Linked DNA regions of Homo sapiens. The protein of the gene in region 1 interacts with the protein of each later gene in a biochemical or structural test. Each region holds a gene or a part of one and is shown in the gene's direction. Other genes may lie near its edges.

What was found. Proteins that work in one complex are often made in the same cells at the same time.
Region 2: of the proteins of PRKACB (region 1) and RYR2, one has a biochemical effect on the other in vitro, tested with the Homo sapiens proteins (one study listed by BioGRID).

The regions. Positions count from the first base shown.
Region 1 is NC_000001.11:84,182,163-84,185,784, forward strand, and holds part of PRKACB (cAMP-dependent protein kinase catalytic subunit beta), read left to right. Parts: intron 1-37; coding exon 38-166; intron 167-1,874; coding exon 1,875-1,973; intron 1,974-2,937; coding exon 2,938-3,020; intron 3,021-3,622. UniProt on the Homo sapiens protein: Mediates cAMP-dependent signaling triggered by receptor binding to GPCRs.
Region 2 is NC_000001.11:237,045,105-237,048,726, forward strand, and holds part of RYR2 (ryanodine receptor 2), read left to right. Parts: intron 1-3,622. UniProt on the Homo sapiens protein: Cytosolic calcium-activated calcium channel that mediates the release of Ca(2+) from the sarcoplasmic reticulum into the cytosol and thereby plays a key role in triggering cardiac muscle contraction. Aberrant channel activation can lead to cardiac arrhythmia.

The DNA.
Region 1 (3,622 bases):
CGAGAATTTTAAATTTTATTTATGTATTTACATATAGAATAATGCCGGACTTGAAGATTTTGAAAGGAAAAAAACCCTTGGAACAGGTTCATTTGGAAGAGTCATGTTGGTAAAACACAAAGCCACTGAACAGTATTATGCCATGAAGATCTTAGATAAGCAGAAGGTGAGTGTATTTGTTGTTATTTACCTTCAGGGTAAACTTTAGTTTTATCAGCTAGACTATTAAACAGATTCAGTATAATGACTTACCATTGACAGCTTCAAATAATTTTATTATTAAATTTAATTTTTATTGTAACTAAATTTTTATTGTAACTATATTATACATAGTTAGTATACAGTCAGCCCTTCCATATCTATGGGTTCCACGTCCATGGATTTAACCAATCACAGATTGAAGATATTTGGGAAAAAAATTACATCTATACCTAACATGTACAGACTTTTGTTTCTTGTTATTATTCCCTAAACAATACAGTGTAACAACTATTTACATAGCATTTACAATATATCAGGTATTATAAGTAATCTAGAGATGATTTAAAGTATATGGACAGTGTGTATAGGCTTTATGCAAAGCCTCTGTCATTTTATATAAGGGACTTGAGCACCTGGGCATTTTGGTTTCTGCTGTAGGTCCTGGAACCAACCCCCAGGGATACTGATGGACAACTATAATTTATTGTGACAATTATGGACTAATTTGTTTTGTAACTATTACAGAAGTTAAAATGTGTACAGTAGTGATCCAACCACTTCATGTTACAAATTTTGAAAACCTGAGGCCCAAAGATTTGAAATCATCTCAAGTCAGAAAGTTAGTTAAATAAAAGGCCTAGATTAAAACACAAATCTGACTCCTACTCAATTTATTTGCTCAATATTATCAGTATACTCCTAATTTTATATATTAATACCTGGCTGGTATCTTTAATTACTTTTGTTATTTATATTTAACTTCTTGACTTCTGTGACTATCCTCACATTGACCATTAGACTCCAGCAAGAAAGAATGCCACCTTCTAATGATTTACACATATACAAGAAAATTATTTATATGTCTTGCTAAAGTCACCACTTCTTAAATTCAAAATAGAATCACATATGGAATAGAATCACAGTCTTCGTGAAGTCAAGATAAATTACTTTCCCCTTCTATTAAATAGAAAATCTAGAGGAAGCTTAAGTCTAAATGACCTAGGATACAAAGATAGTTTTTGTTATAAAGATAGTTTTTTCCCCAATATTTTGTGTGTCCTCTTCTATGGCAATATAAAATAAATTTTTAGAATTTATACCTATATTTATTTAGATATTATAAAATGAAAATTGTTCATTTTTACTCACTATTTTTCAGTTATGGACTTTCTCTTCATTTTTAATTTTCTTATTCATCTTCTGAAGTATTTAAAATCACTATCTACTTATTGCAGAGATTTGAGCCAGCTTTTATAGAGGACTTTAAGTCATTAGGACCTTAGTATTTTCACATTCATTTTTAAATTACCTTAAGTAATTATATATTTATTTAAGCATAATTGACATAACTAATTTTTAAAGTAATTTCTTATGAGTTTGTTTCTTATTCCTACTTAGCTCTCACTTCTTAATTGAAACCATAATTGACCTTCCTAAGACCAAGTTTTAAATCCTCTATTAGGTTTTCATTTGAATCCTATTATTAAAAGTAATGGCAAAAACCGCAATTACTTATGCACCAACCTAAAAGTTGGTAATTGTTATTATCTTCCTTATCCAATTCTAACAATTTTGCTTATCCAAGTTTATTACTATATGGAAAACATTTTTTTAAATGATAACTTTTTAATTTTGCTTAAATACATTAAGAGATATTTATCTCTCAATTACAGGTTGTTAAACTGAAGCAAATAGAGCATACTTTGAATGAGAAAAGAATATTACAGGCAGTGAATTTTCCTTTCCTTGTTCGACTGGAGTATGCTTTTAAGGTAAATTTTAGTAATATCTAAATAAGATATTTTCAACCTAAATTTTTTTTAAGATGAAACTATAAATGGATTCTAAACCAGATGATAAGCCTGAAGAATATGAATAAACAAAACGAATACCTCTAGAGTTTGTGTAATTAAATCCTATTGTGCTTATAACTTAGGTAACGTTTGAAAAGGTTTTGATTCTCCCTGGGGAAATTGTTCAAAGGTGATACTCATGAGATGGTATTACAAAAAGAAATATTTCAATTTATCAAAAACCATAGGGATATCTTAATAACAATTCTTATGCAAATTCATACACCCAACACATTTTCTACTTTGATTAAGCCCTTTTTGCCACTATCTCATCTTCTTTTACTTAGTAATTTGAGTTCTAGTCTTTTCACTTATACAAAGCAAAATTTTTGTTCCACTATTCAAATGTCTGAAAAATTGTACCACATTTATTATTTAAATTGGTCACTTTTGAGCTCTTTGGAATGATACTGGCATCTCTCTGCAATATTGAATCATATGAAACATTTTAATCTTTTTTCTCCTTTATTCTTTAAATTAAATGAAGACCTATGTATTTAAAATATTAAAACCATTAATCTTTTATACATAAAATGTAAATATTCTTATTAACTTTTTAAATTGTTTTTTACCTTTGTTATTCTTTTGCATATATTATAACGTTACTTCATTGCCTGAGTATTTAATTGTTTGAGAACTAGATGTTCTCTGCAAGAAAAGGAAGAGCAAAAGTCCCAGACTAGTTTGTGGCAAAAATAACTAGGAGGGGAAAAATATGAGTGTCTCTGTATAGAAAAGCTAGAGCATGTTCCATTTATTCTTTATTTCTCAAGGTTATTAATCTGTCAGAGAGATTTTAAATTTTTCTAATTCAGCATTATATAATATTAAAATAATTTTGACCTAAGTTGAATAATTGTATTTCCTTTTTATTTGTTCATAGGATAATTCTAATTTATACATGGTTATGGAATATGTCCCTGGGGGTGAAATGTTTTCACATCTAAGAAGAATTGGAAGGTTCAGGTAACTAATGGTTTTGCTTTCTTCAAATCTTTATATGCTTGTGTTGTTTAACCAGATTTTTAAGTTGATGCCAATGCCAAAAACTTATTTTGTTTGATTAATATTTTGGCCATATGAAGCATTAGGTGGAAACAAAGAGGCCACATCATACACAAGTTTTAATATAAAGAATATAAAAATTTAATATAAAAAAAGGACTTTGAAGCCAATTTAAATGTTATACTACTGCTAGATATTGTGAGGGTCCACTACTTGAAGAGTTTTCAGAAAATGGAAAAATTAATTGAATTTTAAAATATCAATATTTATTAAACAAAGATTAATAATACAACTCCAGGACAGAGGATTGTTTTAAGGATGAAGATGGAAAATAAATATATAGAGAAATAATAATAATAGTATTATGGTAATAAGATTATAAAAGTTTGTTTTTCACAAATTTAATTCTCCTTAAAGTTCTTGCTAAGTTTAGTTTTTAAAATATACACATAATTTAACGGGAGTTTGTACCTCATCAGGTTATGACTAATAAGATCTCAGAGTTATTAAAATAGGTTATAGAATCTGATGGTTTTACCTGTACTTAATAGTTTATAAGCTTC
Region 2 (3,622 bases), about 150 Mb from region 1:
TGTGAATTTGATGGGACATTTCATATGTCCTGATTAGAACATCTGGATTATTATCTTGAGCAGGTCATTGTCTATTGGATTTGTATTCAGCACCCCAGCACATTGAGGCATCTTTTTGACCACTGTCCACAGAAAGCTTTTTTGCTTTTCTTTTTTTAGAAGAGGTGTGAGATCACTGTTAAGGGAAGTAGAGGTGAAATCTTTAATGGGCTGTATCTGTGAGTTATGTATGCTGCTGTAAATTAATTCCTCATTTGCAAAGGGGTTTGTCACTGTTTAGCTTGTACCTGTCTCTCTGGCATCTCTGTTCCATTTGCTGCTGCTTGTCGAGTTGGCTCACATTCCTTCCAAATAGTTATGTAGATGAATGATCATTGATTCAGTGGCTCCCCCATCTGTTGGAAACCTGCCCACTTGGGTCTGTTTATCTTTGAGAGAGATTGAAAATATGTTTTTGTAAACTCTGGATATGCTGGGACACTTATTTTATGAGAGAAAAATCCTATCATAAAATAAGCTGTCAGCTTGTAATGGATTCATTCACTGTCATATCCAAACATATCCATGATTTGGAATGTGTGTTTTATTTTAAAGATTTTATTAACTTACCAATGTAGCATCAAACTGTCATTTGGCATTTAAAAACACGCATCTTTTTCGTTATGGTCCTCTTTTTTTTTTTTTTTCCAACAATCATACAGAATGTTATAGAAGATATTCCTCTGACTTTAGGAAAACCATGGTATAAAATGACCTTGGTCAAGGTTTTTTTTTTTTTTTTTTTTTTTTTTGAGTACTTTGTCTTTCTTTCATTTGTCTAAGCACAGTTGAGTTACCCTTGTGGTGTACTGTGTCATGTAGTTTTGTATTTACCCATAGATTGAGACTTAAAGCTTAGTCCTGGCTGTAAGAATGATCCTGATAGGAATGCTTACGGTCTTCCTCCTGTCTTCTTTTGCAGAATGAAGTATTTCATTATAGATTTCTTCTCAGTGTTCATACATCTTGTTCCACAATGACAAGAAGCATCTTTAAATATACTCATCTACAAATGGTGACAATTATGCAGTATAGATGCTGGTGTACAACACTGCATAGTAGTTTGGATGGGAATACTTAGCCCTAGTTTGTAGAGGTCCAGGAAGGTTAATGGTATGAAGTCAGTACTCAGCAGTGCAGAACGAGGACTAAAATTCAAATCTTAGGCTAATAGTGTTCTTTCCAGGAGAGAAAGGCTTCTTTATCTGCTGTTCAAGTATGTTTTAGGTTTATAGCAAAAGAATACCAAGTCAGTTTTCTCAGCTGTAGGAATGTCACAGAGTACAAAGGAAAAGATGGAATGAGCAGTGGAAATTCGCACTTTTTGCTCCCTTCATAATGAAGCTACGAGGAGCTTTAGATAGATATGCACTATGGTATTTTCCCAAGGAACTGATGGAAAGCCCACCCAGGCTTACATCATCAGACTTATTTTATTTTAACTTAGAAATTAGCATGTACACATTGGCAGGAAGGGCAAGATCTAAAACGCTTAGGGCACTAATTTATTTGACATTCAATTGTATTTGTACTTTGGCTTCAGATAAGTGTTTTTATCACGGCTGAATTACCCAAGAAAGGACTCCAGCAGCACTGGGTGACTGTGCTTCTTTAGATAGCTTTCGGGAGAGAGGGAGAGGTGATGAAGCACACATTTTTCCTGAAACTCTGACATTGTGGGAATTAGATTAATTCAGAAAACATTTGTTGAACACCGTCTGTATGCATAGCATGTTAAGGAAGTATTCCAAATAAGTAGGGAAGTGGTTTGCAGCTGTAATTGCAAAGAATAGATATAGAGGATGGCATGGAGCAATCAGAAGGAAAAATGCATAAACAAACTCCAAAACATTAGGGTAGGAAGAGGCCTTTAGAAAACATTACCCTGTCCACCCCATGCCTCTCTGATATTGCAGATAAGGAAACAAAAGCTCAGAAAGCCAAATGACTTGGCCCAGTGTCACACTCCAAGTTAGTGGCATTTAGTAATGGAGAGTATATGAAAATCTGTGAAGAATTTCCAGAAAGGAGGTTTACCAGCACATCATTCTTTATAGAGTAGATTTAAACCCACTTTTCCATTTTATCCTTAACTTGACCTTCATAGAGTTCTGTCTCCAAATCTGTCCTCTTGTCCTTCCAGCCAGTGAAAAGGAGGTTTCTTTTGTCTTTTCTAATGTTACAGTCCCTCACATGGCCTGAATCTTGGTCCTGGAAGCCAAGATTGGAATCCATCCTTTCTAGCCTTTTTTTTTTTTTTTTTGCCTCCCTATCCACTTACTCCTTCTGGTTTATCTTGAAGCCTGTTAATTTCTCCCATCTTAAAATGTCTGTCTTTGACCCGGATACCTTATTTGGTTGCTCCCCTCCTGCAGAAGTGGTCTTCTCCCACTGCTTGTACCCCTCTCCATGTAATTATCTAGCTTCTCTTCCTTCTTCAATTTACTTTCCAGGATGTTGCCAGTAACTCCCTCCTTGCCACGTCTAAATGTCCCTCTCTGTCCCTATTCCCTTAGATTCCTTCTCAAGCTCTACTACCCTGACTTTCCTTTTTGAAGCTACTCTTTTGACTTTGGGGACATGGTACCTTCTGGGTAATTTTTTACATTTCTGATCATGCTTTTTCCAGGTGCTTTTCATTCCTTTTACTCCAAGTGTGTGGTTATCCCAAAAGATTCTGTCCTATTTCCTGTTCTGGCTCTTCTGCCTTCATGAGCTTATCTATGTCACAAAATCTGGGATCTCTTGAATAACAGAGTCTGAAAAGACTTAACAATGACTTCATCCAGCTCTGAGAGCCAGAGAGATGAAAGGAATGTTCCCAAAGCGACTCTTTTTTGTAGGAGAAACCCACCGTAGATTCGACAGCCCTGGGCCTTCACTTCAAGCCTCTGTTTAGACTTCCCTCTTGCCTCTCGGACCCCAGAAACACCAGCTTGACATCATTGCCTGTTCGGTTCCCTAAGCGACTTTCCTTCCTAGTGTCTCTGCTGATCAGTGGCACTGCCGTTTGTGGCTGTGGCTCCAGTGTGATCCTAACCTTCAGAAGACCTGAGTCTGAGGCCGGAATCCACCAGCACCTAGCTTTACGGACTTAGAACAACAGTGCCTGGCTCATGGGAGTGGCTCAATGCATTTGTCTAGTTCTCTTTCTTCTCTTCTGCATCTAATTTGTCATCATAGCCCATCGTGTTTCTCTTTGCAATCCAACTCAGATTTCGATGTGTTTCATACTCCGTTAGCTTCTTGTTCTGATCCCAGTACTCATTTCAACCTTCGTCATCCTTCCTCCTGCAACAAATCGGCAACCCACCTAGAATCCGCCTGCCATTTTAGTCCTCCTGAAACCCTCGTGTCCATCTCCCAGCCTCAGCTCACATCCTTGCATATCCTGTCTAATTTCTCTACTTGGCCTTTTATGATCTGCCCCTTGATACCTTGCTTATGCTTTTCATCCTACACAGAGTTTTCTTGGATCACTCTAACCAATTCCGATTTTACCTTTCTCCGACCATTTATCACTAATAATTAATAAAATGTATGGAACTGATTGGGAAACTCAAGCAATGGTCAGAGAATGCTC